Homo sapiens: one gene and its partners. The protein of the gene in region 2 purifies or fractionates together with the protein of the main gene of each other region. This does not show direct contact. Each region holds a gene or a part of one and is shown on either strand. Other genes may lie near its edges. The genes, in order: NR2F2, NT5E, USP22 and GJA1.

Region 1 (7,364 bases), on a different chromosome or scaffold from region 2:
GGAGGGGCGAGTCTGGGGGGAGGGTGAGGCGCTTTTGCAAAAGGCACGAGGGTCCACCCCAGACGGCCTGTGGCCACTCCGGAACGACTCTCCCACAAACCCCGAAGCCCCAGCCCCAGCCCGGCGGGGAACCCCCCCAGTGAGAGACAAGCAGAGAGCGGAGGTCTGGCGTCTGTCTAATCAGTGTGCTCGGAGAAAGAGACGGAGGGAGAGGGCGGAGAGAGAGAGGCCGGCTAAAGAGAGAGGAAGCCGGGAGAGGCAGGGAGCAGGCGGCCGGCACTAGCGGAGCCTGGGCAGGGCCTGTAAGGGCCGGGGAAAGCCGGCGAGGCTCGGGCCCAGGCTGTTATCTGACTCCGGACCGGGAGAGTCGCTCTCGCAGAAACACAAAGAAACCCCGGCGTTGGCTCGCCCCAACCCGGAGCCCGCGCCCCGCGCCGAGCGCGCCATTGGCAAAGCACGGCTCGCGGCGCTCGGCGAATTTTATATCACAAAGACCCAACTCGCGCAGAGCGAAAGCAGCCGCCCAGGGCCCCTCGCCCACCCTTTCCTACTTCCTATCGCGCTCTCTTCGTTTCAAAAAGTGAAAGGAAAAAAGAAAGCAGAGGTATTTTTTTTTTTAGCAGGATGTTAATCCACGGAGGGTCACATGAGCGCTGCCCGGGCGGCAGCGTTAATACGGCGAAGTGCATAAAATTGCCATTTGTAATTTGAACCTCCTGTACAAAAGTACAATCTCAGGTTTTTTTTTTTTTTTTTTTGAGAGGGTGGGGGCTGGGGAAAGGGGTGAGGGGGAGGGACATGTTGAACATGCAGGAAAAACAAGGGCAGAGAGAGAGAAGTAAACTAGGCTTTAAAACAACAACAACAAACACCCCATCCCTTGCAGAAAGGCAGACTCCAGTGAACTCACAATCAATGCAAAGGAAATGGAAACAGCCCAAAGAGAGAGTAAAGAAGGAAATCAGTCGGCCAAAGCATGCGGATTTGGGGTCTGGGTTCCAATGCAGAACTCGCTTCTAGTATAAAACCCTTTTCCGCTGCAATACGAAGAGAAGAGCTTGGGGCTTCTTGTCCTTACCCAGAGCAGGCTAGCCAAACGTACCCAGGACCCCGGGACCCAGGACGAGGGAAGGAGAAATGAGAGGCCGATACCTTCCCGTCTCATGCCCACTTTGAGGCACTTTTTGAGGCGGCAGTACTGGCACTGGTTGCGATGGTGCTGGTCGATGGGACAGTTCCGGTTGGCGCGGCACGTGTAGCTCAGGTTCCTCCGCACGCTGCGCTTGAAGAAGCTCTTGCAGCCCTCGCACGTGAACTGGCCGTAGTGCTTGCCGCTCGACTTGTCTCCGCACACCACGCACTCGATGTGTTGCTGCTGCTGCTGCTTGTCGCTACCCGGGCCGCCAGGGCCGCCCTGGCCACCGGCCGCCGTCTGGGCTGGCGTGCTGGCTGGGCCCCCTTGGCCGGGCGTCTGTGGCGTGTGCGGGGCGCCGGGCGGCGGGCCGGGCACGGGCGGCGCCTGCGAGGCCTGGCTGCCCTGTGAGCCGGGCACCTCGTCCTGGGGGTCGCGCCACGTGCTGACTACCATTGCCATATCTATGGGGGCTGCGTCCGGACTTCCTGCTCCCCTGGCTGCGGGCGGCGGCGGGGCGGCGGCGGCTCCCCGGGTCTCGGGCTCCGGCGCGCCGCCTTTTGTGTGTGCGAGGGTGCAAGAGGGCGCGGGAGGGCGCCCCGGGTGGCTCGGGGGCTGGTTGGTTGAGGTTGGTTAGTTTTTCCTTTTTTGTTTTTGCTTTTGCAAAGTTTTGTCGATGGCTTGTCTGGCCCGGTGTGTTTGTTTTGTTTGTTTCTCTCGGCTCAGCTTTGTTGGTTTCGGGGGGCTTTCCGCCGGGAGGGGAGGGGAAGGGGACAGGAGAGCGAGTGGGAGCAGAACGTGGAGAAAGAGGGAGGGGAGGGAGAGCTGAAGTCGATTGTCTGGCTTCAAGACAGAAGTAGGAGGCAAAAAAAAAAATCTCTCCAAAGATCTCGCTCGCTCTCACTCTCTCCCTCCCTCTCTCGTTCACTCTCGCTCTTAGAGCTGGTGTGCAGCCGAGGAGTTGGCGGAGGAGGAGGAGGAGGAGGAGGAGGAAGAGGAGGTGGTGGTGAAGGAGGAGGTAGAGGAGGAGGAGAGGCGACTGTCCGGGGGCCAAGTCCAGGGCAGCCCACAGTCAGCCATTCAGGAAAGCCATCGAAATCAGGAGGACTAGGAGATCGGAGGCGCCGGGTGCGGGCGCGCCCAGGGAGCCAGGCAGGCCGGGGCGGAGGCCGGCGGCCCGCGGAGTGGCCGGAGCGCTGCCCGGGTCCGGGGGAATCAGCATGAAAGTGGTCCGCGTCGGGCGCTGCGCGGCGTCGTCCTGGCGCTGGGCCGCCGCCGCCGCCGCCTGCCCCGGGCGTCCGGCGCGCGCCTCGCTCTCTCCGGCCGCCGCCGCCCGCAGTCGCTGGGTGGAGGCCGCTCGCCGTTCCCTGCGGGCCGCCCGGGCCGCCGCTGCCGCCGGAGCCGCCGCCGAAGCCGCCGGGTCGGGCCCGGAGCCGCTGCGTCTAGCGCCGCCGCCGCCGCTGAAGTCGCTGCTGCCGCTGCTGCCGCCGCCGGAGCCGCTGCTGCTGCTGCTGCCGCCGCCGCCTCACACACATAGGGAAAGAGTCAACTCGCCGGCGGCGGGGGAGAAATGATAAAAGAGAGAGAGGAGGGCAGATCACCACCTAGAAGCACATCCTTCGTGCGCAGAGGGGGGAGAAAAAGACGGAGAGAAAGAATGAAAGAGGGGAAAAAAGGCAGTACGGCACCCGGAGAAAGGAGGCAACTCGGGGAGAGGAGGAGGAGAAGAAGAAAACACACACGCGCGCACGCACACACACACCGCGGAGAGAAAAGAACAGAGAATCAAAGTGATCAAATATGCTAAAAAGGGGGGCGCGGGAGGGAATGCGATTTATAGGCGCCGGGGCTGGCAGAAGTGGCTTCTCCGCGATCAGCTCACTGAGCTCTCTATATAGTGAACTTTGACACGACTGCTGCAACTTAGCGCACGTTGCCATGGCGACGGCGCGCCTTATAAGGCAGCAGCCGGGGTTGGCCTGGCCAGGCGCGCGCGCGCCGCCCCCTCGCCGTCATTGGCCGGACTGCGGCGGCCCCGCCATGGCGGCCGCGGGCGCAGCCCGGTCCTAGCGCGAGCGGCGTCGCCGGCGCGGCGCGGGGCACGCGGGGGACCGGGGGTTGGGGGGGCGGGGACGGGGTGGCCGCGCCGCCGCCGCCGCCGCCGCCGAGAGGGGGATGGGCCCGTGCTGGCCCTGCGAGCGCTGCCTCTGCTCTCCCCACATCCCGCACCCGAGGTTTCCGCCCCGGCGGGGAGACTAGCGCAGCGCGCACACACAACGTCTCTTAAAGGCTCCGCGAGAGGCTTTGGATGGAATCGGGGAGTTTGCCTCTCGCAACTTGGCGATGTCACGAATTCCGCCGCTCGCGCACCACCCGGGACTCCTGGCGCATCTTAGTACCCACAATGCCAAAGAAAAGTTCCCTGGTTTCTTTGCAGAGGGATAGGGAGTGAGGGTGGGAAGGTGCCACGAACTGAGCTTGTAGGCATTTTCCAAACGAAAGAGTTGGCCAGATCCGGGTGATGGCAAACCCTTCTCTTAATTAACTCTGATCACTTGTTCGGTTTGGTGACATATATATATGACATATATTCTTTTCAGAGGATAAAGGCCGTTCTGTTTCTGTTTATTCCTTGTAGGGTTAACATTTCACAGGTATGTGGCCTGACATTTTAATTGCCCAAATAAAGCATCTCGGATGCTGAGAAGCAGAAATAGACTTCATCTGATTGTCATGATGCAATTAGAATCAATTTTCCTCAACTTTACCCTCTCTCGCTGGTTTTAGCTAACTCTCCAGCCAACATCCTGCCACACACCCAGTCATGGTGAGAGGGGAAAGACCTCTGCCCACTGATGGACAGGAGGAGGCAGCCGCCCAGCCTCCCCTGTGCACACCCTCTGTACACACATGTAAGCGCACATGTATCAGATGCACATTTGTCAATGTACACAGACAAAGACTTCACCGACTATGCTTCTAGGTCATAGAACAGTTGAGTACGGACTTCATTGTTCCTCAAGTTCCTTTTAAGCATTCATATAGTCATTAAAACGCACCCAGAGATTCTGCCCCAAATGGGAAATAATACTAGTACAGGTCACAAGAACCAAACCCAAGCCATATTCTACCTCAAGAAGTCACTGCAAAAAGAACAACTTCATAGCCTATTGCCATTCTGCTCCATGTGCTAAAATAATTGAGACAGTTGTGTCTTTGAATTCCAGGGTGTCTGGTTTTAAACATCAAACATGTAGAATTGCTCTCAGAACACACTATATTCCAACGCAGTAAACTTGTTGTTTATGACCAGTTAGTGAATTATCATTATTCCACATTTATACAAGAAAATTGTGTCTCCTTTGTACACACTTTGCACCAAGAAAAAACCTCATGCCGGTAAACCAACCAGGTTTGTGAACAATTAAAATATTTTACACAAAAGACGCTGAGCTCCAGGAAAGAAATGAACACATATGAAGAGTAAATTGATGACCACAGAAAACATCCTTGGTAGCTGAAAAAAAAATTGACAGGGTAAAGATATTTTAAAAATAAACCATACATATAATTGACATGCATAGATCACATTTTACATTCAATTCTCTTTACACACATAGGCAGAATATGAGGTAAGGACTAAAGATCTGGGCAGATAGGGGCTGGTTTTTAGGAAAGGAAAAATCTTCTTTAAGCTTCATTCCCGAAACCTCAGCCCTCACTCTTTCTCCGATGAAATCACGTATTTCACTAAAGCTGCAGGTTCTCGGTTTATTTGAAAGTTGTTAAAAAAAAAAAAAAAAGCCCAGCAAACCTATAGTGGACACTGAACTATCATAAACCTGGTGTGTAATAAGATTGCCACAGAATGAAGCCAAGCTGAGAATTTCAGGTTAATTAGAGACACAATATAACTTTCTCCTAAAGAGGATAAGAAGGATGGAAAAGAAATCATTACACAGGAGAAGGTTTTTGGTAGTTGTTGTTGTTTTCCCTTCCAACCTCTATGATTCAGGAATTGCTAATGTTACAAATGTCAGCAGATTCGGGACAAGCTCAGCTGAGATGTGATGAGACTGGGGTTGAGATAGGAAATCTAATGGGCATTCCCATCTCAATAGAGGATGAAAATAATTGATTATAGGGAAATCTTCATCTCACCTCCTGAATGAGACTTCCATAGCAGATTACCTTTTACAAACATGGGAAGGAACAATATCGAGGAGGAAGAGCTTCCCCAGTCCACTTAGAGATTTTTGGAATTTGAAGTATGCGTGATGGCCTTAGATTAAAATGGAATAATTTCCCAACCATATCTTAACAAATTGGAGCCTGCTAGGCAAATGATCACAGGGCTGCCATAAAGTCAGGGGTGTTTCACTCTGTATTTTAGGACTCATTCAGTTATGAAATGCTGTTACAAGGGAGAAAAAAAATCACCGTATGAATTATACTTAATTTTAATGCATAGAAGAAGAGACAAGACTACAGACTGAGAAGAAAAAAGGGCAAAAATATTTTTAAATGTCTTCTCCAGAGATGCTCACTTGCTGTGCGTCTAAGGTTAAAAAGCTCTGAGAAGATAAAATCAATATATTATTGTTGTTTTTTAAAAATCCAACTCAGTCTTTTTTTGCAGATGTAAATTTATTATAATGAGAAGAATGGCAAGCTTTAATTTGCCTAGAGAAAGTTGGGACAACATTTGCCCTAATCTAAAAAAGAAAAGAAAGAAACTCAACACCCAGGAATATAATTTTCTTGCAGAAAGTGGCCTGATGGGCTGTATTTCTTTACAGATTGAATCACAATATGAATACAGACCCCAGCAAATGCCGAGTTTAACTCTGAACTCAGTAGAAACCAGTTCCGTCCTCCAGGATTCATTGAATTCCTCCTTTCCCTCAATCTAGTCCGTGTGTGTTTTTCTCTTCCACCACACTGGAGCTCCATGAATAGGGAAAGGGGCTTCCATTGTGTCCCTCTGAACTTCCAAGTCAATGCAATTTTTAACCACTGGCTTGTGGTACTTTGAAAATCACCAGGGGCTGTCAGAGTTAGGTCCTCTGAAAAATTTACAGTGCTAAATCAGAGCATATGCTGGGAGGGAAAAAATTGCTTAAGATTAGAGCAAGTACAGTATCTGTCTGCCCCCTAGTGTAAGAGTCCTCGCTGCCTAAAATTCAACTTTAAAAGAAAAGGAGCTCTTAAAGGGAAACGACTTTGGACTCACGTAGGCATAGGAGAACGAAACTTCTGTACATTTTAATCTGAATAATTCTTCAGGATTTAAAATTAATTGGCTCTGGCTTGGTTGGACCGTACTCGGATCTCGCCACCTCTGCGTTTCCCGAGTCACTGGCGAAGAGGTGATTTTTTTTTTTTTTTGAACTGGGTTTATGTGCGTCCCCCTCACCCCCTCCTCTCTTTTTCTTTCTCTCTGTCTCTGTCGTCTCTCTCGCTGGCTTTTTAAAAATGAGGAACCGCTCCTTGAATGTTCTGGACAGAGCACAGAATTGCTTCTTAAGTCAGCCCGGCGCGGTTGCAATAGACAGCAAAAAGGTAAACGTTTGCCTGAAATCCGCACGCCAGCTCCACCGCCCCGCCCGATGGTGAGTACCCTTCTCGTCGCGATTCTCCTCCTAGCTTAACCGAGCGCTCGCCTACCCGAACCGTGGCCGAGGGCGCCGGGCTAGGCTTTTCTCCCTCCCTGCCTGCCTGGCTGTCAGTTGCACAAGGTTGCAAAATGAAGCGCAGAGGCAAAGCGAACAGTAAATTCTGATACTTAGTGCGAGCCTAGCAGCTCCTTTGCTAGAAAACCGAGTCATCTGCTGCTTGCAAAACCACGCTTTATAGGACTGGTTTTTAGTTTGCTCTGTGGAAGGAAATGAGTTTGAGGAGACAGGACGAGGAGATAGGAGGCTCCGCAGTCTTAACGCTTCGGTTTAATCATATTTTGGCAGCTTTGCAATTGTATTTTCCCCCCTCCCCCTCCACCATCTCTCCTACCACACACATGTAATAAAATATGGCAATGCATTGAATTGACTCTGATCCCCCCTTCCCCGAACCCCTTAAACCACAGTCCTCGGCATTTCATACACGTTAGCAAACCGATATTTTGAAAAGCCCCAAGTCATCCCCAACCCCACACAGCACAAGCAGAAAAGTGAGAAAGGAAAGAGAGAGAGAAAAAATACTGTAAGTAAACATACCAAAACCATATTTGCCT
Region 2 (8,027 bases):
CCCTATTTTACTGGCCAAGTGTAAAAAATAAACCCTAAATGTGACTTTCTCTAATTTTCCTTGTACAATCTTATTGACATTTTTTATAGCTAATCCATATATGCATAGAACCGAGGCTATTATTTTGCTGCAACAACTTTTATAAAAAGGTTATGAAGTTTAAAAGTATATTTTGTATCAAGAGTACTTAATATTTGTAAACACTAAGAAACAAACATACTTCCTATCAAAACCTCTAGCTGCCATTTGCACACTGTTTTTAAGGTGAAGCCTCCCATTTCTTGAATTACTTATGCAGAGCTGAGCAGGCTCATGTGGTTCCACTCCCACGTTAAGTATTTGTTCTTTGGGCATAGGTCATTTCATCAGCATGGGTATTTTCTGACCACCCACTCAGAGGGTCCCACTTTCCAGCAGAAGTTCTCATATCTGGGCTTAAGAATGATTTACAGTGACTGTTCAGATTTGGAGGCAGAGCGACTTAAAAAATGTATACCTCTTCCTAAAGTCATTTATTTTCTTCGAGAACTCTGGACATTCCATAACTGGGTGTGTAGTATGAGTAGAATGAATTCAGTGCTAGCCTCTTGCTGGAGAGGGACAAGTGCAGGTTTAGAATTACAGCTTATGTTAGAAGGTTCTCTTCTCATGATACCTTCATGTTAGAAGAAAGAGGACAGAGGCAGAGCTGATGGAATCTCATAAAATAACAGCTAATGCCGTGTGTCAGGCACTATGCTTAACAAGTATCTGTTTAACATGTGTAAATGCTCTTTAGCTCTTGCTTTTCTATAATATAAAACAGTCCTGGAGTCCTGTTCTTCCCCTTCCTTTCTCTCGTGTCCTTTGACTGTCTTTTGCAGCCTCTGGCCTTTCTCATTATCTACTACAGCTTGCTACCTGACTCATCAAAGGCACATGGGTGTTGCAAGAGAGGATGGTATCCTGTGTTTATACCATTAAACTTGCTATTATAACAGGAGCTATAAAGTGAAAAAATAGAGACAAGAAATAAAGCAGAGATTTGTCATCCATGAGCTTGGGGCTATTGATAATTATGAAGAGAGGAGATATTAAGTATTCTGAACAGTAACTTGATATAGTTGAGAATGCTGGACTTGAGTTCAAAAGACCTAGGTCTAGGTCTTGGATCTGTCAGCATTAGCTGTATGGTCAAGTCAACCCTTTTTGAGCTTCAGTTTTTTCATCTGACAGGTGGGAAAAACATCTCTCTTTCCTACCAAAAATAAGTTGTGGATATCAAATGAGACAGTGTGCTTAAAACTTCCTTGTGAATGATAAAATTTTATGTAAACATAAGCTGTTTGATGGATTAGAAATGGATATGAAGAAGAAAAATATGGTTTAAAATTGTTAGTAAAATTTCATTAAAATTTGGACACGTAAACTTAACATAGTTGGCTTTCTCCTTATAGGGCCCTATGTTAATTTTTTTTCTAACTCACTAGGTTGCTGACCCTGAGTAATCATGTCTGTCTCTTCATTTTATAATGCTCTAACCTTCAGCTTCTAGGAGCCTGTAAAGATGGTTTTTGCTGTCACAAAGCCAGGTCCTAAAAGGCAGATTTGAATCTCACTTGAAAAAATGCAGTTTCACACATTAAAGGCAAGGAGAATTTTTGGCTATTGGTATAAAACAAAGATCACTGCCCAAAGTGAAAGAAATATTAAAGAAAAGCTTCCATGGCAGTGACTTCCTGTGGAAAACTTGATCCGACCTTCAACTGCTGGATAAATTACTTTCATTTTGGAGATATATGTAGAAACCACGTTGATATCTTGGTCACCTAGAAAAACATATACATTATTTTAACTACAGAAAAGGTAATTATCAATCAACAGTAAGGTAGTCCTTTGTAATTATAAAAGGGAAGCAATTTCATAAGCAGGGGTAAAGTGTCACAGAAGACAAGAACGCTAGTGATCATAAGTACAAAGAATTTGATTGCTTTTTCATGCTCCAGATGTAAAATGTGTCTGTTGTTCAATATTGGGTAATTGGGGGAAGTAGAGTTGCCTCAGCTCTGTGATGACTCTAGAAAGAGGTCATTGACATCATAGCCTTTGAACCACTCCAGAACAAGGGCATTAGGGAACTGGGTCAAGAGCAATTAGTTGAGAGATAAAACTGGCTTCCTTTTGTTTGCCTGCCCAATAATTATTTTCATGTAATTGATGATGGGACTTGGGGGATTTCCTTTACCAAAGAGAGGAGAGGATAAATGCTAATTGCCTATAGCTACAACAAACCCATGTTTGTTGGGAACCCATGTTCTGTTGGGAACCCAACAGAATTTTATTTTAAAAATATCACTCCAGTACTTAAGAACCCTTCTCTCTTCAGTGGTTTTCACCTCTGGGTGTACACTAGAATCACTGAAAAAGAGTTTAGCCCCAATCCAGTTAACTTAGAATCTCTTAAGAGCTGCGGCCGAGCCATTGGTATTTAATTTAAAATGCTCCTGAAGTGATTCTAATGTATAACCAGTGTTGAGAACGCTTAGGTCCAGGGCTTCCTTAGCCTTCTGCATGAGCTCCTCTCTCTAACATCCTTCAGTCTAGGCTTGAGTGGTGGACAGCTGATGGCTATCAGCCTCTTTGTCTCATGGGGCTTTTACGCCTGCCCTTCCATCTTCTGTCACGGAAGGGACAGAAGAAGCCAGCACCTTTCCTCCCAGGAAGGGCTGCCTCCTTTGGTCTGGTCCTGCCCTCCACGCTCCTTGGAATAAGTAGCTAAAATGACAGGTCCAGCATGATAAGACTGAGGAAGATCCTGGTGGAACTACCCAGAGATGCCAAGAAGCTGCTTGTGTGTCTTGTAAGCATGCTGGTCTCTGCCCTAGGAAGAGGAAGGGGAAGTGTGTCCTATGTCAGTGGTCTGTATGCACATAATGTGACTCTCAACAGAATTTCTAAAAGTGAGGCTGGCATATAATGTCCCTCAATGCTGCCAGAAGTACCAACTGACATCAAGTATGGTTATTCCTATGATTTGTACCACCAACCCACTGTGCTGAAAGGGCGGCGCTCACCCCATCCACTTCTACCTGACTGATTCACACAGAAACTTCTTCAAGAAAGAAAATTTAAATGATTTAATGTGATGGTTTTCCATATCCTAAAATTCCAGAGGTGTGATATTTCTGTTAATGCAAAACTCACTTATATTTCACAATTTAAATAGCTGCTTAGATGTAGTTAAAAGAATTTTAAAACATTTTTGATTTACAAATGTTTTGTCTCTGGGGTTGGATGAAGGCATGTGTGTGCTCGGGGATTGACAGGGTACATATTCCTCTCTGCTGTGCTGTGCTGCTGCTTTCCAACAAGCAAAGCAGGAGGGAGTCAGCAATACAGGGAGTCACTTTGCCCTCCTGGCACCACTAGTAGCTCCCCTTCTTGGCCCAATTTTGTTGTTCTTTAGAGAAAGGAAGAGACAGTCATGCTTACCAGAGTCATGTCTTAATAATTCATCTTTTATCATCTGGAACCCATCTCCACCATTGGCCAGGAAGTTTGGGAGGATCACCTTATATACCTCGTCCATTTTGAGAGGGTCATAACTGGGCACTCGACACTTGGTGCAAAGAACATCTAATTTGACTACTCTGTCTCCAGGTTTTCGGGAAAGATCATACACCACATGGATTCCTAGAAAAGAAATGAATCTGTTTTCACCAGATCCAAAGGGAGATTTCTGTTTCCTAAGGAATTTTGGCCAAACTCTACAATTGGGGCATGGGGCTGTGGTTTTTCCTTTGGTTTAAACCTGAGTGAAATTTTGTCAAGAGAATTGTGACATTGCAGCCACCCTTTATCCTTGAGTCCTTACAGGACATATGAGAACCACTGGAAGGAAAACCAGCTCTGGACCAGAATAGGCAAAGGGTGACTCTACATGGACAAAACCACATCTTTTTCTGTTTTTCCCTTAAAATGCTGAATTGGTCTACTAAATTGATTCAATGGCCTTAGAAAGTGAGAAACAGATCAGAGGCAGAGAGCATTTTACAATTTTGAAGACCATTAAATGGTAATCATTTGGGATTTGGTGACTTCCACAAGGCATAGAGCTATGCAGTGCTTTGCTAGAGCATCAGAAAACTGCTTTTCCCTCAACTCCCTTCTGGGAAAATGGAGGATGTTTGGGTTGCCCCATAGGCATTAGGACAGGGCCCCACTGCCTTCTGTAGCCCTTCAGTCTCAACAGCAATGTGTTCTGCAGAGGAAAACTCAGGAAAGCAATTCTATCTGTCAAGCGGGACCACAACCTAAGGTTAAAAAAATGAGGCCAGATTATGATTTCCAGGTAAAATAAGATTGCTTTTAAAGGATTAATTCACTGGACTGTGGAATTATTAACAAAAGTGTTTCAGAAGCCCTTGGCAATTTAGGAAGCATTTATTTCCATTCAACTTTCACTGCAGTCCATGAGATAAACAGGAAAGGTTTTCTCCCTGTGCCCAGAGGGGTTGAGAACTTGCCCCAGGTCACAGTGGGACTAGAACCAGGTGTTCAGGTATGTCTGTGCAGTAGGCTGCTCCTTCCAGGAATCATCCTGGTTAATACAGATTGGACAGCATTCCTTTAAATCTTGGCATGGTTCCAGGCAACGATGAGTAGAACAGAGGAGAGGATTTAAAAAAAAAATAATTGAATGCTTAAATAAGATTTTATTAGAAACTAGACCTCAAAGCAGGTGACCTGCTTAGAGGGCCCATCTGATGTCCAAATCAGACTTGGCAAATACTGCTTATTGCCAGGGCTTTGGGGCTTTGGGGCTTTGACCCCAACCTAATCTTAGTGGCTCTGAGAGTCCACAGCCATTAAAGGGTAAGGTATTGGTGTTGGGTCGGGAAAAATCCAAACCAGTTTGACCACAGGAATTTTGGTGAAGGGGAAGCTGAGCCAACCAGCAGGAAATGCCATGTCACTTTGGATGGGCCAGCCCTACAGGATGGGTGACTTACCGCCCACCTGCAGGAACTCTCCAGTGGACTGGCCGTAGCGGTGCACGCTATGCTCAAAGGCCTTCTTCAGGGTGGAACCTTTTAACTGGACTAGGTCAAATGTGCCTCCAAAGGGCAATACAGCAGCCAGGTTCTCCCAGGTAATTGTGCCTGAGGGTAGTCACAGATGAGGCAAGAAGGAAAATAGCTTGAGAAAATGCTTACACCATGACCAGTTTCCCTCAGCGCTGGGGGAAGAAATGAGGGGGACATGGGAAGCTTATAGAGCATCATTAGCTATGTCTAAGTGGTTCCTGACACTGAGGAAGGGAATGAGTTTAGGAGGCCTCTGGCCCTGCACTCCACCACTGGGCAAGATGGCGGGAGCTCACAAATGGCTGTGCCTCAGAAGTTCACCATGCTCAGTCTTAGATCTGCTAGCTTGGGGCTGGATCTCCAGTAGTTTGTTTTGCATTGTTCCGTTCCTCCAGACAAACAATGTGCCCCTGCAACCTGTCCCTGTTGTCTGACAATGGGATGCGTTTGGGGCCTTATACTGATACTGATTGGTTTTCACAGTAAATCAGGGAGGGCTACAAGAGTGTCTTGAGTATTTGTGTAGTTGATTTGTTTTGCCATATGATATAATCTTGGATATCTGTAAATATACTAAGGTAACATTTTAATCCAGTGGTATGTCTTTTTCAGGACAGAAGATTGGTGATTTTGTCTCTTTTCAGATGCCAAGGTGGTGACTGTTGTTATTTTGCATAAATCAGAAACAACTAGTATAGCTTTGTAAGTCAGAAATTCAGACCAAGTTTGAGTTCCACTAACCTTACCTGCAGCTTCTGTGTGTGAATACATATAAGAACACACAAGCTTGTGTGTGTCCTTCAGGCTAGGTTTTAGACTTTAATAATGGCTAACCCTAATTTAAAGGACTGACATTCTGGTACATGGCTGGCAGCAGAGATGAACTGAGGCTGCACATGGGTGTGTTCAGGGCAAGAACCATAACAGAAAAGGAGATCAGAGAGAGAACATGACACACTGAGGAGCTGGGCCTGGGAGCATACCATTGTTGCGTTCATCAATGGGCGACCGGATACCACCTCCATTTAAAATGCACATGGATACGTGGTTCCAGAACATTTCATCCGTGTGTCTCAGGTTGTTGTTAATCTGCAACAGTAGCACAGATTTACACTAGTTACTCTGGCTCTTCTTCCTTAGGATCAGCTCCAGGAATCTGGTTAGCTCTAGTGAGGAAATAAAGCTGCTTTTCACCTGCTGCTGTGTTCCCAGGGATCTCTCAACTATAATTAGAACTAATTTTATGCTCCCAGAAGTAAAAATATACTGTTACCAGTCCATGTCAAACTCTTATTTCCCCCTCCTAAAACTCCCATACTGTCAGGCCAGGTGGCCTTAGCAAAATGGTCTCTCGGTTGTAGCCCTGGTGTCGGGACTGGGCCTCCCATGCAAGGTGGCCTGCAGAGTCACTCCTGCACAGGCTTCTCCAGGGCAGGCCATGCCCTCTGCCTGATTCTGAGGGCTTGGCCCTAGAGCCTGCTCAACACCAGACCTCATGCCAAAGAGAACCTGGCCTCCACGTCTATGTCTGCAGCTGATTCCCAAGTTGGCAATTTTGGAAAGACAGAGACAGCCTTTTGAAGCTGGGGAGAATCACATCCATTCTTACTTTTATTTTACAAAATATATGTTTAGTTATAAGAAATAAAATGAATATATTCTCATTTAGGAGACAAAAAGCCGAAAAAAAAAAAAAAAAAAGGCCAGGCATAGTGGCTCACACCTGTAAATCCCAGCACTTTGGGAGGCTGTGGCAGGTGGATCACCTAAGGTCAGGAGTTCGAGACCAGTCTAGCCAACATGGTGAAACCCCGTCTCTACTAAAGATACAAAAATTAGCTGGGTGTGGTAGTGGACACCTCTAATCCCAGCTACTTGGGAGGCTGAAGCAGGAGAATCGCTTGAACCCAAGGGACGGAGGTTGCAGTGAGCTGAGATCATGCCACTGCACTCCAGCCTGGGCGACAGAGCAAGACTCAGTCTCAATAAATAAATAAATTAATTAATTAAATAAATAAATAAATAAAAAGCAAAAGCTCTCCTTTGTCCTAGCCTCTTTAACAGAGTGGATAAGCACTGCCAACAGCCTGGGTTGTTTCCCTCCAGACTTCTCTTAACATTTATATACCAGCTTCTCCTTAACTACTTCTCTGGCATTGACTGCATGATGCTGAGGAGACATCATGAGTCTGGTCTTGGCATGAGCATGATTGTTGTCATTTACACGGCAAACATTTATCGAGTGCAGTTGTATCCTGGGCACTGGGCAATGCATGCCAAGCACTGACAGAAATGACTTCCCTGGGTGCAGGCTGTGAGCCCATGGAAGTAGTAGTCCGACATAGGAGACCTTGGCTCAGTAAGGCCCCCAGAGAGCTACCATGGCCATTCCGCCTGGTGACAAGTAGACGGGCTTGTTCTTCATACCTGGTCTTGCTCAGCCATAGGACTTGTTATTACCATTAAAACTGTGTGTTGTCTTTCTGTGCCTGTGAAAGAGGTTCCTGTCACACAAGGCCAGGGTTCTCTGGAGTCAAGTGAACAGATGAGTGAAAAACAGTCTGGCCAAACAGATATGCTTTTATCTATTATGTTGATATCTCCAGGGTAGCAGAGTTTGTGCATTTGCATCATCTTACAAAAGGAAAGCAACATCCAAAATTCAGACATCTAAGAACACCTTAAAATAAAGGTTTTAGTTCTTGTAAAGCAGTATGTTGGTGGTTACCTGATCTCCTTCCAGCACCTTAAGAAGGTACTGAGTATGAAGCTACATCAGGCTTTTGTTTAGGCACTAATGTTTTATTTATTTTTCATATTTATTTAATTTTAGAGACAGAGTCTCGCTCTTTTGCCCAGGCTGGAGTGCACTGGTGCAATTATAGCTCACTGCAGCCTCCTGGGCTCAAGCCATCTTCCCACCTAAGCCTCCCGAGTAGCTGGGACTATAGGCACATGCCA
Region 3 (8,027 bases), on a different chromosome or scaffold from region 2:
CAAGGACTTCCCAGTCTGGAGACCATCACAGTCACTGAGGGACTTGGGAGGAGGATAAACTCATGGGCCCTGTCAGAGGCTCTGAATCCACAGGTCTATCTCAGCTGCATCTAGAACTTGGGGCCTGTGACCCTAGGCAACACTGGAGACCCCTGCACATTTCACAGAGCGTGCCCAGGCCAGGCCCGGTGGCCTGCACTGGACAGTCAATGCTGCATTTCACAAGGCCAGTTCCTTGCTAGAAATTTATTTAACAATATAAAAAATGAAAACTTGCAGACTGGGAAATTTACTCTCGATATTTATACAGGATTTAAATCTTGAGACAATCTCCTACTAATGGAATTCAGTAGTTAAGGGACAGCGAGGAGGTCCAAATTGCTCAGAGCAAACTCGGTTTCTAATACTCAGAGACAAGGCCCCAAACGGTCTATGCTCCTTATAGAAAATGGCCCCCGTGACACAGGCAGCACTGGCCTTTCCCGATATTTGCTCGTCTTATGCAGTTTAGAAGTGACAGTCCATTTCGGGTTCTGAAATAATTTCGGTGGATCATGTCCAGGGTTTTTAAACTTCAACTGAAGTAAAGAACAGAGCCAGGCACGGTGGCCCATGCCTGTAGTCCCAGCTACTTGGGAGGCTAAGGAGGGAGGATCGCTTGAGCCCATGGGTTCAAGGCCAGCCTGGGCAACATACACAAGACCCCATGCCTGAAAAAAACAAAAACAAAAACAAAAAACCTGTAGCATGCACTGAGGTTGGGTGAGAGGGTCCCCTGACCTAACAAAGCAATGGATTCTCCCTGCACTCAACACTTGAGGCTCTAAGCAGAGACCACATCTGAGAAGAATTAGGGCCACTACATCAGAAAATGGAACCAGAAACCATAAAATAATGAAAACTAACACACTTCGAAGCACGTAGAAAAACAATCCACCATGCATGATCCACGCCTTCTTGAAGAGGGCTCTTTCACTTGGTCCCTGGTCAAGGACTGTAAGATGCAAAATGGTAGGGGAAGCTTCCAAGAACACACTGCTGGCTGTAGACAACAGCCAAGACCTCAACACGAAGGGCTCGCATCCCGAGGGGACACCTGCCCTACGACCTCCCCAAGAGGAAGCACCCCCACCCCACAACCTTCGCTCTCATGGCGTCTATTAATCATTTATCTCATAGCCTCCTTAAAGACCTCTCAGAGCACACACAGCTCTGGAGACTGGGAGGATGTCAGTACGGCCCCAGAGGGTTTGATATTGCCGAGCACGCAGCCTCTCACTTACTGGCAGACTTGGCAGGTGACGTCTGACTGCAACCCGCCTGTGAAGATCTGGTCTATGATGCAGTTGCAGTGGTTGGGGTTGTTGGCCTTCTTCCCATTGTCATCACCTGGAGACAGACCACGGCTCTGGGATTAGTGTCTCCCCAAATATGGGGAGTCTCTAAGGGAAGAGCAGTTCACCCTGCAGAAGCCTGGGGGAGCCAGGGCCAACGCTTTAAAAGGCCATGTGAGGACACTCCTCATTTTAGCAGAGGGTGTCCTTGTTATTTTAATATGACGAGAAATCACAGCACTTGGATTTTCAATGCTCCTTTTTCTCATTCCCTAACAAGAGCCCCACAGCTTCAGTCTTGCCAAGAAAACCCACCTAATGCCCAGTGACTGAGCAGAATAATCGATTCCCATTATCATATAAAGAATGACTGAATCAATATTGTTCCAGTGAGACAGCTGAACATATGGTGGGCCAGGTACACCCGGGGAAGCCCCAGCAACCTCCCTCCCTGAGTAGGTATCATGGTGCCCCAAGTTCAGAAAGTGACACCGCAGGACACAGGCTGTCCTCATCAGCTAGAGCCCCCAGGGGACAGCGTGTCTTCCAGTCAGTTGCATCTGGAAGTGCCACTCCCACCCTCTCTATTCAATACACACTTCATTCATATCCATGTGTGCAGATCTGTGAAAAAGAAACTTAAGTAGCAGAACTTAATTCGTGTGTGGAATACATATTCTACATAACTTCACTAGACAGTGGGGACAGGGCACGAGGACACCTGTATATACATCACAGTTCAAAGACGTTGAATCATGACAGAGGAATAGAGAAGGGCCACTAAGTCTTCTGAGAGCAGAAGGTTTAAGATTAGAGAGAAAAATGCTTCCCAGAGGGATCTCAAATTCATGGGACAAAATTCAGAGGACAAGAATATCCATACAGGAAGGCGCAAAGAATGATGAACAGAATGGCCAGGCGCGGTGGCTCACGCCTGTAATCCCAGCACTTTGGGAGGCCAAGGCGGGCGGATCACGAGGTTAGGAGACCGAGACCATCCTGGCTAACACGGTGAAACCCCGTCTCTACTAAAAATACAAAAAATTAGCTGGGCATGGTGGCGGGCGCCTGTAGTCCCAGCTACTCAGGAGGCTGAGGCAGAAGAATCACTTGAACCTGGGAGGCGGAGGTTGCAGTGAGCTGAGATCGCACCACTGCACTCCAGCCTGGCGACAGAGCGAGACTCTGACTCAAAAACAAAACAAAACAAAACAAAAGATGAACAGAAAGATGCCGTGAAGGCCACAAGGACAAAATGCACGTAACCAAGGCCATGTGGCCAGGCCACCTCGCTGAACAGCTCTGGCAACCAGGTTTCTAAACAGAAGAACCTTACATTTCTTTTCAGACATTTCCAAGGGAATTCTGTCAGAAGCACGTCAGAGGTCACATTTTGTCATGTGAACATTTAACAGCAATGCATTTTTGAACAAGTGATTTTTAGAACATCTTTCTGCTGCTTACAGAAGGCTCTTCGTTATTCTCACTAGGTGCTTGGGGTAACAGCATAGTCACTTCCACAGTGGCTCTTTCCTCTCTTATAAATCATACTAGGACATGAAATTCTACCTAAGCTACTAAGTAACTTTCCTTTGATTTCTAGGTAAGAATTAAAAGGATCACGTAGTTTTTCAGAGGAAAAAAAGTAAGTACCAAAAGAAAACAGAACCCAAAGTCACATTTGACCAAAACCAGCCATTTTAGCTCAACTGTGGGTTGTTTCTGGGCTGTGATCTCAGAACCCATAGGTTGTACGTAAGCGCCTAGGGCCCGGGTGCACAGCCTTGAGACGGATGAGAAGCGATGGGAAGGCCAGCCCACCAAGCTGTTCAACTCGGTGAACCGTCAGAACAGGACTCTGTTCTCTAAAAGACTCCAAGTTAAAATTAACTGATAGGATATCGGCTACAACTAGCTGTGCCAGCCCAGAGACCACAGGAAACTCACAAGCAGCCAGGTGCCCTGTGACCTGAGCGCATGGGTTCTCAGAGTATGGCATCTGAACCAGCGGCATCAACATCAGCTGGGAACTGATTAAGAGTGAAGAAGCCCCTGCCCCCCACAGATCTGCTGAATCAGAAACGCCAGCACGGGCTTTAGGAAGACCTGCAAGTGACCAGCCCACACTCATCTGAGAATCACCTCTCAGTCTCTCTGCCTGTATGGATAGACTTCAGCTGCAGGTCCCTCACACTGGGATCTCCACCATGAGGAGTGGGGAGGAGCCGATCTTGGCTCAAGTCATTCATTCCCAGCCTCCCACCTCCAGCGCTAAGAGCTGCCCCTGCCAACTACCAACACCACACAACTCTGAAAAATCATCAGGGTACCACCCTGGGGCCAGGCTGTGGGACTATGTTGGGGGAGATGGCCCAGGTCCAATGAGACCCCAAGAGAAGCTTTGCTCGTCCTGTGTCCCAGCTCTCTGGCTATTTCAGAGCAACCATCAGTCCTTTTGGAGAGTCCCCAATGGGAAGGAGACAGTTGGGTGATTAAGTTGTGTTTGGGGGATGTCCAGAAGCCTCAGGCCTGATAACCCACAGGGTCCCAGAAATGCCAGGGCAGGCAGGGGCCTCAAAGCACAGGCCCAAGAGGGCTCCAAGAGTTTGCTGTTCACTGTGATCGGTCACTGAGGACCTGTCATACTGCTGGAACTACTTCCTCGCCTCTTAAAAATAAACTAGGAGGAGCCTCTCTGAGGTCATTAGTTATGGTGACTTCAGAAACAAATGACGACAAGGGCTATGATGACAAAACAATGGAATGTGTCACCTGTGCCCCTTTTTGCACGAGTGCATACACTCGCTTTGCTTCCTTCCCCTTCAAGGAAAACATCCTGCCCTGGTGGAGGGTGCAGAGCCCAGGGCCCACCTTTGCAGTGTCGGTGGAGCACGTCCAGGGCCGCGATGAGGAACTCGTGGGCGTCCTGCTGCTCGTAGCCTGCTAGGTGCCTCGCGTGGGTCCACACCAGGTGCAGCAACTTATACGGGATGTGAGGGGACCGGTGTCCAGAGTAAAACTGCCAGAGGGCGGGGAAGGAAACCTTGTCAGGAATAAATGTAGACTCTGAACACAGAGTACACACAATCAAAACCTTTATCAGATGCCTACCATTGGCTGTGGCTCATTTGACACAAATGTTTGGATTTTACTTTTCTACTTTTTGCAAAGTCTATTTTTATCTGGGCTCACTGGACTTTTCGAGTCCTCATATGAATTTTTTCCTTTCTACCATCTAGTTTTCCACATATAAGCCTAAAAAATGAATTATGACTTGCTACTATGAGATCACATGCAAATAAAAGTGACTCGATTTGCCCAATACTAGTTTCCTCAAAGCACTAGCCAAACCACTCAGGCCCATGGACACCAGCACCTCCGCAAAGGGAAGCACATCACTGTGATTATGCAGAATTCACCAGCATCAGCCACAGGATTCTCTGCCTCTGAGGCTAATGGCAATTAGCTGAGGGCTTGCCAGCCAGTCCTCTCCAACAGCTCAACTCCAGCCGCAGACCCAGCAGCACACCTTCCATCCCACGGCTTCCTCCCCAGGTCAGAACCCACAGAGGGGTCTTGCCTGTGCAAATACAGAATTCAGGGCAGTTTTATTTCTCATCAAAAAACCCAAAACCACAGACCACCCAAATGTGTCTGAACTGGGAAACAGACAACTAAACCATAACCCATCTACATAATGGAACCCAACTCAGACATCGAAAGCACACATCATGGATGCACGCAAGACACGGGTGAATCCACCCAGTATTACATTAAGTAGGGACAGCCAGATTCAGAAAGGCTACTTCCTGCATGCATCCATCCGTATGATGCGCTGGTAAAGGACACTCAAGGGACCGAAGACAGATCGGCAGCTACCAGGGTCTGGGGACTGGGGGTTGACTTCGGAGGGGCACGAGGGAGTTCGGAGAGGTAACAGTTCTTCATCTTGAGTAGCAGCAGTTACACAACTATGCATTCGTCGAAACTCATCTATCTATAGGCTAGAAGGTGGGTGTGACTGTAATTTACACCTTAACAAGCCGGAGTCTAAAAACAATCTAACACAAGTGAGCTTATCACTAAAGTCAGTGATACAACCACCCACCAACTTCCCAGCTGCACCCTCCTTTCTCCTATTTGGGCCGTGTCCCCAGCAGTTATGGCACATTGCAGGTACTTTGAGGAAATCGGTTAGGCTCGACCAGAGGCTGGCAATCTGTTTTTGAAAGGCTTGGACAGTAAATAATTTCAGCTTTGCAGGTTGGATAGCCTCTGTCCAACTGCTCAACTCTGTGGCTGTCCCACAAAAGCGACCAGTGACCAGACAGACATGAGTGAGCTGGCGTGGCTGCATCTCTCGCAGAGGTTACGAATGGGAACAGGCCAGGGCTGTTGGCTGGCTCCTGTGCAAGGCACCTGAAGAACAGGCACCAGCCTGCTTATTAGTTGAGGTAACTGAGCTGCTTCAGCTCTGAGAAGCATGTCTAGGTCACGGAGCCGGTGAGGGCTGAGGCGGCAGCCGTGAACGCCTTGCTCTGAACGCTGCCATGCTCTGATGCCGGGGACAGAAGTGGACAGGAACGCCACACGTGCAGCCCACAGGAACAGCCAACGTGCAGCGCGTAGCTCATGAGGACAGAGGCTCTGATGGGGCATGCTTAGAGAGACCTGGCGGTGGAGGAGACTCGCATACCAGGAGGACACAGGAGGGTGACACATGCGTGCCTTTCTGAGCCAGGAAGGTAGACCATGGAGGAAGAGGAAGGGGGAGAATCACCCGTCTTTAGAGACAAATGTCACCCACCAGGGAAGTCTCTGCCACAAGCCTCTCAAAGGGCTTCTCCTTGTTCTGAGTCAGCAGTGCGTCCCCAAAAATCACGCCAGGTCTTCCCTTTTTGGAAAACTGTGTTTTCCATAATAGACATGTATATTAAACATTAACTTACTACAAAAGGTTCTAAATGTATCTTCCTTTATCATGGTCCACCTTAAATTTTTTTTTTGAAGGTGAAAACAAAGTAACAGAAATGTTCCCCTGCAGAAGTCAATGGCGCTCACCTCCTGAAACAGTGAGGACATCTCACAGACCAGACAGGAGCTGGGGCTCTGCATCTCACAGCGGTGCCTGTCAGACAGGAAGAAGTCCCGCAGAAGTGGCGTGTGGGTCAGGGCCTGCACGATGCAGTTCATGAAGCATGTGTTCCCAAGGTTGATCAGCCCACGCAGACCTGGACACAAATCACCAGAGAGCAGGAGTTACCTGTGTGCTGAACCACAGGTGTCGCTGGATCCCAGCGGCTTCCTCTACCTCTACATACTCATTTTCTTTTATTCATTCATTCAAGCCAGAACACGATGAGATATCGCATTCTGCTAGTTTTTATGCCACTTTTACATGAACGGTATTGAAGAATGTCCACCACCATGGACCCCTCCCACTTCAGCCATTGTATGCTTTGACAGAATTACACAAATATAGTTTCTACGACAACAGGCCAGGTCAGAGTGAAGCCTAATGAACAAACAAAACAGGTTTTTAAAAATGTTCTAGGGCCAGGGCAGGGGCTCATACTTGTAACCCAGCACTCTGGGAAGCCAAGGCATGAGGATCACTGGAGCCCAGGAGTTCGAGACCAGCCTGGGCAACATGGTGAGATGTCTCTACGCAAAACACAAAAATTATCCAAACATGGTGGTGTGCACCTGCAATCCCAGCTACTTGGGAGGCTGAGGTGGAAGGATCGCTTGGGCCCAGGAGACAGAGGGTGCAGTGAACTGTGCTCCAGCCTGGGCAACAGAGCAAGACTCTGTCTCAAAAAAGAAAAAGAAAAAGTTTTAAAGGGTATTCCCTCAATTTGTAGAAAATTCAGCGAACACTTACACTCACACACATCATTTCTCTCCCTGAAGATTACTGTGCCCAGCCTCACCCTGGCCAAAATCAACTTGAGTCCCTTTACCCACACAGACGCTGAAGGCTGTGAGGGCAGGGCTGTTGCTACGCATCACTCTGCGCCCCAAGCCCACTGCAGGTCCCTGCAGAGAACAGGTGCTCAAGAGCTGGTTGCTGAGCACATTGATGAGTGACAGTTATGCAGGGCTTCAACAGAATCATGTGGACTTAAGAAACCCACAATTCTGTATTTACTTTTAAACCCTGGAAAGAAGCCTAGCTGAGAGTGACGACACGCTCCACCCACCTATGGTGCAGTTCGAGGTGATCTTTCTCCTTTTCGGGTTGTGCTTCAGCAGTTCAAGCTCCCGTTTGGTTGGTTCCCAAGTTGAAAACTTCTCTCCAACGCCTAAGCAGATGAAGGACAGTTCCAAGCGCTATTAGCTAGATTTTCACATCAAGTGTGTTTACACATAAAAGCTGTGGCGCTATGCTGTCTGTCAGGGTGCATTTCAGTGAGCAACATCCACAGCACCAGGGCTTTCTCAAACTCTACTGTGCTGAGAGGGGCTACACACAACACTTAAAGGAGCTTCTCACAGAGGGTATGAGGATGTGAGCTACGTTTCCTGCAAGAAAAGCAGCACCTCCAGTCAAAACTACCCCAACGCCAATGCCAAAACAGTTGTTTTTCAAATGTCTTCCATCCTTCAGCACAGAGATGGCAGCATCAGCACCAATGGGAACTTACATGAAGGATTCTCCCGCAAACAAGTGAAATTGAAGGAGAGAGCTTG
Region 4 (7,311 bases), about 36 Mb from region 2:
TAGCTACTTTGAGAAAATACCTTCAAACCCTAGTTTCATGCGGCCTATACTGTCTGAAAACATTTTCTTTATGTTGCACTCATTCTCTTTTTAACGGAGTAGCTGTCCTTTCAAAGTTAACTACTCCTCCAGTGCACAAGTAATATTTTCCCACAAATAAGCCCACTTGTAGCTATTTTAAATACCTTTCCCTTTCCCAGATGTTACCTTGCCTCTTTTTTCATTCTTTTTGTCTGCATTAAATGAGGAAATCCACCAAGGCTGTGTGTGTGCTTTTTGGTACACTGCCTATATCCCATCTCTTAGTAATTTCATCTGTACCTGTGGCTTCTAATTACAAATCTTTTTTTTTTCTTTCTTTTTTTTTTCAGATCCTCTCACCTCAGCCTCCTGAGTAGTTGGGACTACAGAGGCCTGCCACTATGTCTAAATAACCTTTTTATTTGTTGTAGACACAGGGTCTCCCTATGTTGCCCAGGGTGGTCTTGAACTCTTGGGTTCAAGTTGTCATCCCACCTCAGCCTCCCAAGTGCTGGGATTACAGAGTTGAACCACTGTGTCTTCCCAATCACAAATCTTATAACAATTTTTTTTTTTTTTGAGACTGAGTCTCACTCTGTTGCCCAGTTGTAGTGCATTGGTGTTATCTTGGCTCACTGCAACCTCCACCTTTCAGGTTCAGGCAACTCTCGTGCCTCAGCCTCCCGGGAGGCTGGGACTACAGGTGTGTGCCACCACGCCCAGCTAATTTTTGTATTTTTAGTAGAGACGGGATTTCTCCATGTTGGTCAGGCTGGTCTCGAACACCTGACCTCAGGTGATCTGCCCGCCTTGGCCACCCAAAGTGCTGGGATTACAAGCATGAGCCACTGTGCCCCGCTGTAACAATTTTAAAGTGAACGCCACAGCTCCTGTTTTAAATTGTCAGTCATCGGTCTTTACCTAGATATTTCAGTTCTTCATACCAAAATATTTCAAACAAATCTTTGTATCTCTTTCAGCAGGTCAGTCCCTCCCCGAGCTTCCTTTTTTTGTGTTAGTAACATTTTCCCAATCAAAACTCCAAAAATCGGTTTCCACAGCCTCCTCTTCCTTGTCTTCCCATTCATCCATCATCAAGTTCTGGTAATTCTACCTTCCTTTCCTTTCTTTCTGCTAGTATTGCCTTTCAAGTTCCTATAGCTTACTGCTCTCCCATTACAATACTCTTCTTACAAGTCTAATCCGGAGCCACCAATTATTTAACGTTTATGCTACTCAATGAGGTGAAAGTAATCCATCAGAGTTTATGTGGGATAGGCATTTAAAGGCCTTAAAAATCACTCCATTCATTTCTTAAAATTTCAGAAATTCCTATTTTGAAACAAAGGTAAAAATCCAAAAAAGGAGGTGGTTCTCATATTAAGAAATATTTCTCACAATTCTGAAAAAAACTTACCCTCCATTGTGCCAACAATGTGCATTTTGCAAAATATATATAGCTACATGGAGAAAACAGAATCAAAGGCCTGGCAGGTCATTTGGCCTAAAGAAGCCCTGCAGAAGACAGAAACTGTAAATAACTGTTTCTAGTTCTCCAAAGAGCAGTGTTAATCAGGCTGCATCCATTTCTTCTACATAGACAAGGTCTGGCAATCAGAGAAGACACAGTTCTAGGAAGTCAGTGTTTATATTAAAGAAATGGCATTGACATTTCTGAGAATATGAGAAAAACACATTTAAAAAAAAAAAACTATTCCACAATTTTTGCAAAACATTCCAATGGAGACAAGCTTCTAAGGTCAGATAAGTGAGATACTTTTGAACAATTTTGCTATTGATAAAAATATAACTCACCAACACTGCTAGAGTATGAGTTATAATAGAAGTTGCTACCTGTCATTTAGAGACCCTGTTAGTTGTCCATGAGAGAAAACTGTGGGGCCTTTTGCAAAACCTAGTTTGTCTTGCACATGATTACTCATAGCATTGCATTTCAGTGCCATTATCCCAAAAGAAGAGAAGCTTCTTCAGAATGTCTTATCAATGATATTTTCATGAAATCATGTTGAGATCTTGTATCAATGATCATGGAAAAATGATTTTAGAAAGAAAAGACATAGTACGTTCATGTATTAAGAGAAGTAACTAATTACTGGCTCATGCTATGAGTAATTCCTTTGGCTCAGAAAATAGTTCAAGTGATATCCATGAATAATTTAACTTGTTATAAGGAAGTTCTTTAGCTCTATTTCCAATTGGTCACATAGGTAATAGATTAAAAAGAAAAGAATACTTTACAAGAATATTTAAACATCAACATTCATCTATAGACCTAACAAAACATAACAGAAATAAACACAATTTTTTTTGCTTTAAAAATCCTATTATAAAACAGTCAATGACAACTTTTCTTTCATGTAACTTATTCTGAATTAGCATCATGGTAATGTTTTTTATAATTGTAGTTGATAAATAATTTTACAAAAATAAATTGTTATGTAAATTAAATGAAGCATACTTTTTTGAAAAGAAGACATGTATTTTCTTACGATAAAAAGAATAAATCATTTTCATGAATATGTTCTAAGTCCAATGAAATAATTTTTAGTTAAGACAAAACAATAGATTTATTTAAAGAACAATATAAATACAAGACCAAAACAACATTTATAGGTTGCTGAACCTGAAGACTCGAAAGTCAGGTTACAATTTCTACTTCCAGAAGATTGTTTTTCCCCTTTCTTAATTTAAAGAAAAATGTACTCTTGGAAATAGGATAGCCAACAAGTAAAAGCAAAATTGTTCCTTAAAATTGCAACATTTGGGCCCAGCGCGGCGGCTCACGCCTGTGATCCCAGCACTTTGGGAGGCGGAGGCCTGTAATCCCAGCCACCCAGGAGGCTGAGGCAGGAGAATCACTTGAAGCCGGAAGGCGGAGGTTGCGGTGAGCAGAGATGGCGCCACTGCACTCTAGTTTGGGCAACAAGAGCGAAACTCCGTCTCAGAAAAGAAAAAAAAAAACCTGCAACATTTCAAAAGATGTTATATTAGTCATTTCAGTGAAAGTTTAATTAGGGAACGGTGTCTACCAGAATATATTTGGCATCCTTCTTTTTTCTGGTATTTGCCTGAGTGAGAAAAGTGTTAGGAATAGGAAGGCCAGATGAGTTTGCTTTCCCTCCAGAGAATACTGGCCAAGAAATTTCCTGTCCAACCTCAGGAGCATCACTGAAGCCTGTTTATGAGGAATTGTCCTACCACAACACTGTGTTATGGCATTTGGGAAGCCCTCAGAGGAGCTGCCTGCTCTAAGATTGAGGCCACATGACTCAGGCCATTATAAACCCTAATGCAGAGCCCTGAAGAGGGAGAGCATTTGGAAGGGGATAGGGAAGCACATAAAGATGATATGCTCAGCTTTACTGTCGTTGGGCAGAAAACTCTCTAGTGGGCTTGAGAGGGGGAACTGATTTTAAGGAGGGCTGAATAGTTTGGGAACCTACTTAATGCAACCATAGTCTGTATTTTTAAAATCCTCACATTTCACTACAGATTTGGGTTTTAGTGTCTTGGCATAAATAGGGCCTTAATATAAATTCTTAGTTTTCTGGAGACATGGTAGAGGTCAGATATCAAGATTTCATAGGCAAACAAAACATGCTATATATGTAAAAAATGTATATACACACACAGCCTTTTGCTAAACTGAAAGAAAGTAAAAATTCAAAGCAGTCAAGGGGTTGAAAGATGGATTGGGTATGGACTTTTCTTCATCTATGTCAATTTTTGAAATCTCTCTCCCATCTCCACCATTCCCTTTGTTAATTGTCCTTGCTTACATTTAAAGGAAGGGAATTAGATCATCAAACAGGTCACTCACACCTACCTCTAACTTCACACACCTTGGTCAATGTGAAACAAGCTTGAACTGGTTATATGCTTCCCCACCATTTTTATTTATTGTAAGCTACTTTAAAAATTTTAGACAATGTTGTAATAAAAATATACACCTTTTTCCCCCATTATCCCTGGTCTTCTGGTGAAGCAAGCAGTGTAATCAATGATTCTTATGTGTGAGGAGCAACTCCAAGTAGAGGCGTTCATGTCCCTAATGCTTTTTTATTTTTCCTCATCAGCAAATTTAAACTACAACTTTATCCTGATCCCACTGCTGCTCTTTGCCTCTTCTCCCCCCAGCCCTTCCACATTTACCAGCCTCCTCCCTACCTCCTCCCAGCCTTTCCCTTTGCCCTCCCCTTTCTTCTAGCCCCTCCTCCCAGTTGAGTCAGTGGCTTGAAACTTTTAAAAGCTCTGTGCTCCAAGTTACAAAAAAGCTTTTACGAGGTATCAGCACTTTTCTTTCATTAGGGGGAAGGCGTGAGGAAAGTACCAAACAGCAGCGGAGTTTTAAACTTTAAATAGACAGGTCTGAGTGCCTGAACTTGCCTTTTCATTTTACTTCATCCTCCAAGGAGTTCAATCACTTGGCGTGACTTCACTACTTTTAAGCAAAAGAGTAAGTTTTTAAAAAATGAGAACACGTTACCTATTAGTTTCTTTTTCTACAAGTAAAACTTTTCTAAAGTTTTAAAATGTGTTAAATGTAATTTTGAATTATGATACTGTAAATGGATTGATGGATTTGAAAGTGTTTCTATAGTTTTAAAGTTAAAATTTATTGTACCAAATATATATTTTGACTGTTAAAAAAGTTTCTATTAACATTGCAACAGGTGAAAAGGTTCAAACCTTTCCGATTAGAATAAAGGATTAGTTTACTGGATGTTTGGTTTTTCATTTTAGAGTATCATTTTATTTTGTTTTTTTTTTGTAATCAGTAATAGTCTAGGTGCTATCATTTGTTGGGTGGGGGGGGGGCGGTTAGGCGCCTGGGTTGGGGGATTTGACTGACTACATCGGAAAAATCAAAGTGCAAATTTGCTTAGCGTGCTTCCTATAGTATTCTACACTTCATAGAATAAAGTGCTTTTTTCATATGGAAATCTTGATTGATGTTCTATAGCTTTGCAAAGCCAACTTCTTTTGTGACGAAGTGCTTTGTTAAAACATCGTGGTTACTTGACTTCCACGTGGTTCCTTCCTAGAATTTTCCCCATTAAACAAAAAGGTATAAAATTCAAGAGTATTAATATTATGCTTTAAAAATCAACAGTAAATTGTTACTTTGTGTTAGCAACCGCTATGGAAAGATTTGAGACCCTCAGGAGAGACAGCTTTTACTCGACCACGTTGGCAGTTTAGGAGATGAAATCTCTTGAATGGGTGGTGGCTAGTTACAGAGCATTAGAGATCAGACGTTTAAAAAAGAGTGTATGCCAGGGTACTTTTCCAAAACCGTCTCCTAAAACGGGAGCTCCTAGAAAGAGCAGGAAAAAAACTTTCTTAAACAGCGCTTTGGGAGCTCCCCCCGCCAACACCCGCCGCCCCGCACCTTCCCTCTGCTCGAACCTGTAACAGAATTCAGAACTCTGGGGCAGTTCTTTGGAGTTGGAGCTCCTAGGGCAAAGATAACGCTAATGCGTTGTTTAAAAGGGTTCAATTTTTAAAATACTTTTATTGGTAACACCCATTCTGTTCATCAGAAATGCAGCCATGCATTTTTGTGCCCGGTAAAGATTTTCTGTTCTGTGTAAATCTACAAACTAAAATAATTAGTTTAGATTCTTGACGTGACCCTGCAGTGGAAGTATTTGCACCAGTGAATGCTGAAAAGCAAATAAAAATGAAAGCTTTGCGGAGGCCGTGGGCCGGACGGGCGCGGGGCGCCTCCTGCCATCTTAGCGTCTGCCGGGATCCTTCCCGCGCCTTCGCTGCCCGAACCAGCTCGGTCTTGGGACGTTTCCCCCAAATCCTCACAAGTCAAATCGAACTCAGGTCCGAGTTCGTCACTGCAAAGGAACCCGGGGTGCGGGGTGGGAGGGATAGGAGGAGAGATGGGCTGGGTGCCAAATGGTAGAACAAATGGTTGATTTAATTAAAGTTGTCAATCTAATTTCCCATCCCTCTCACACCAGCCCTTTTTTTTTTTCTTTTTCTTTTTTCCTCTTAAACTTGCTGAATCCCACTATCTCCGCGTTGGTAAGAAAACCTGAATACCTTGGGAATTGTGCTTAAATTGCACTTGCAACTCCCCTGGAAGTTCCTGAAACTTCCCGAGAATGAGGCGGGGCGGCTCAAGGGGAAAGGGCAGGGAGGAGAGACCCTCGGGAAGCTGATGACGCGTCCGGGGCAAGTCAGCCTGTTTCCGAGACGCGCGCCTCACGGTCGTAGCAGCGCTGCGCCCACCCTGCCCCTTTAGTGACCCAGCCAGCCTTTGCTGGGGGTTTCTGATAACGCTCATCGATAAGCTCTCCTTGCTCCCAAAAGGCGTGCTTCTCTTTCTCTCCAGGTACAAAGTAGGGGTGGGAAGGGGAGAGCTACACAATGTTGTAAAAAGAAGCGTGGCTTTATTTGGAAGACGGTTGAATTTCTTTTGCTTCCTCGACCCAGTTAGTAACGACAAGAAAGATACTGAATATCGCCCTCCGAAAATCGGGCGCATTTGAACTCGGTGAAAAGTGTCCCTGTGAGGAAGCCTAATGTTTACTTTTGTGCAAGGATAACTGGAAATTAAAGCGTCTAGTAATGCAGAGATTTCATTAAGCGAGCGCTCCCCTCCCCCCCGCGCCAGGAATGAAATAAGCCAGTTAGACAGAAAACACTTTTGGGAGAAGACTAATTACTTCTGGGTAGGCCGAATTGACTGGAAATTATACCAAGCAAAGGCAGTACATTCCATTCCGTCCTGGCGATGTTGATTCTATATTATTAGAACATTGTTCCCCCAGTGTGGGGGTGCTTTGTACTTCCCAAAGTCAGGGTAGACTGGTTACCTGGGAAAATGCAGTGTTAGTGCTTTGCTCCTACTTTCTTCACTGTTTAAACATGTTCCACATTTTTCTAATGCCTTCTGAGGGTTCTCAACCCAGCCACTGAGTTCCTCACCCTTGGCGACTGTGATACCAACAATGCTGTCACCCTCCTTGGGAAACATGGTTGCAAAGATGCTCCGCAGGAGGCAGATAAAAGGCTGTGCTTTCAGATACTGAAGGTTGCTTTGTTACTTAGATGTTTCCAATTCCTGCATAGAGAAGGAGGGAAAACACGGGGTGCATTCTTTCTTTTCTTTTCTCTACATCCAGGGGTGTAGCTTGGTTTGAGCCTTTATATATGATACCCGCAGGGAAGGGAATGATAGGACAGTCACCAGTGATTAATACCTTCCACTCCGCCTTTCCTGTTGTTCTGACTTATCTTCAGGATTCTCAG

What was found.
Region 1: the proteins of NT5E (region 2) and NR2F2 purify together in Homo sapiens (affinity purification with mass spectrometry; 3 studies listed by BioGRID and IntAct, with this or other methods). This does not show direct contact.
Region 3: the proteins of NT5E (region 2) and USP22 purify together in Homo sapiens (affinity purification with mass spectrometry; 4 studies listed by BioGRID and IntAct, with this or other methods). This does not show direct contact.
Region 4: the proteins of NT5E (region 2) and GJA1 purify together in Homo sapiens (affinity purification with mass spectrometry; 3 studies listed by BioGRID and IntAct, with this or other methods). This does not show direct contact.

The regions. Positions count from the first base shown.
Region 1 is NC_000015.10:96,326,336-96,333,699, reverse strand, and holds the start of NR2F2 (COUP transcription factor 2), read right to left. Parts: upstream 3,001-7,364; 5' UTR 1,595-3,000; coding exon 1,153-1,594; intron 1,136-1,152; exon of another isoform or gene 1,079-1,135; intron 440-1,078; exon of another isoform or gene 393-439; intron 1-392. UniProt on the Homo sapiens protein: Ligand-activated transcription factor. Activated by high concentrations of 9-cis-retinoic acid and all-trans-retinoic acid, but not by dexamethasone, cortisol or progesterone (in vitro). Regulation of the apolipoprotein A-I gene transcription.
Region 2 is NC_000006.12:85,487,622-85,495,648, reverse strand, and holds part of NT5E (5'-nucleotidase isoform 1 preproprotein), read right to left. Parts: intron 6,156-8,027; coding exon 6,050-6,155; intron 5,142-6,049; coding exon 4,992-5,141; intron 3,673-4,991; coding exon 3,472-3,672; intron 1,809-3,471; coding exon 1,645-1,808; 3' UTR 1-1,644. UniProt on the Homo sapiens protein: Catalyzes the hydrolysis of nucleotide monophosphates, releasing inorganic phosphate and the corresponding nucleoside, with AMP being the preferred substrate. Shows a preference for ribonucleotide monophosphates over their equivalent deoxyribose forms.
Region 3 is NC_000017.11:21,011,547-21,019,573, forward strand, and holds part of USP22 (ubiquitin carboxyl-terminal hydrolase 22), read right to left. Parts: intron 7,640-8,027; coding exon 7,538-7,639; intron 6,566-7,537; coding exon 6,396-6,565; intron 4,354-6,395; coding exon 4,206-4,353; intron 1,390-4,205; coding exon 1,284-1,389; intron 1-1,283. UniProt on the Homo sapiens protein: Deubiquitinase that plays a role in several cellular processes including transcriptional regulation, cell cycle progression or innate immunity.
Region 4 is NC_000006.12:121,431,335-121,438,645, forward strand, and holds the start of GJA1 (gap junction alpha-1 protein), read left to right. Parts: upstream 1-4,311; 5' UTR 4,312-4,498; intron 4,499-7,311. UniProt on the Homo sapiens protein: Gap junction protein that acts as a regulator of bladder capacity. A gap junction consists of a cluster of closely packed pairs of transmembrane channels, the connexons, through which materials of low MW diffuse from one cell to a neighboring cell.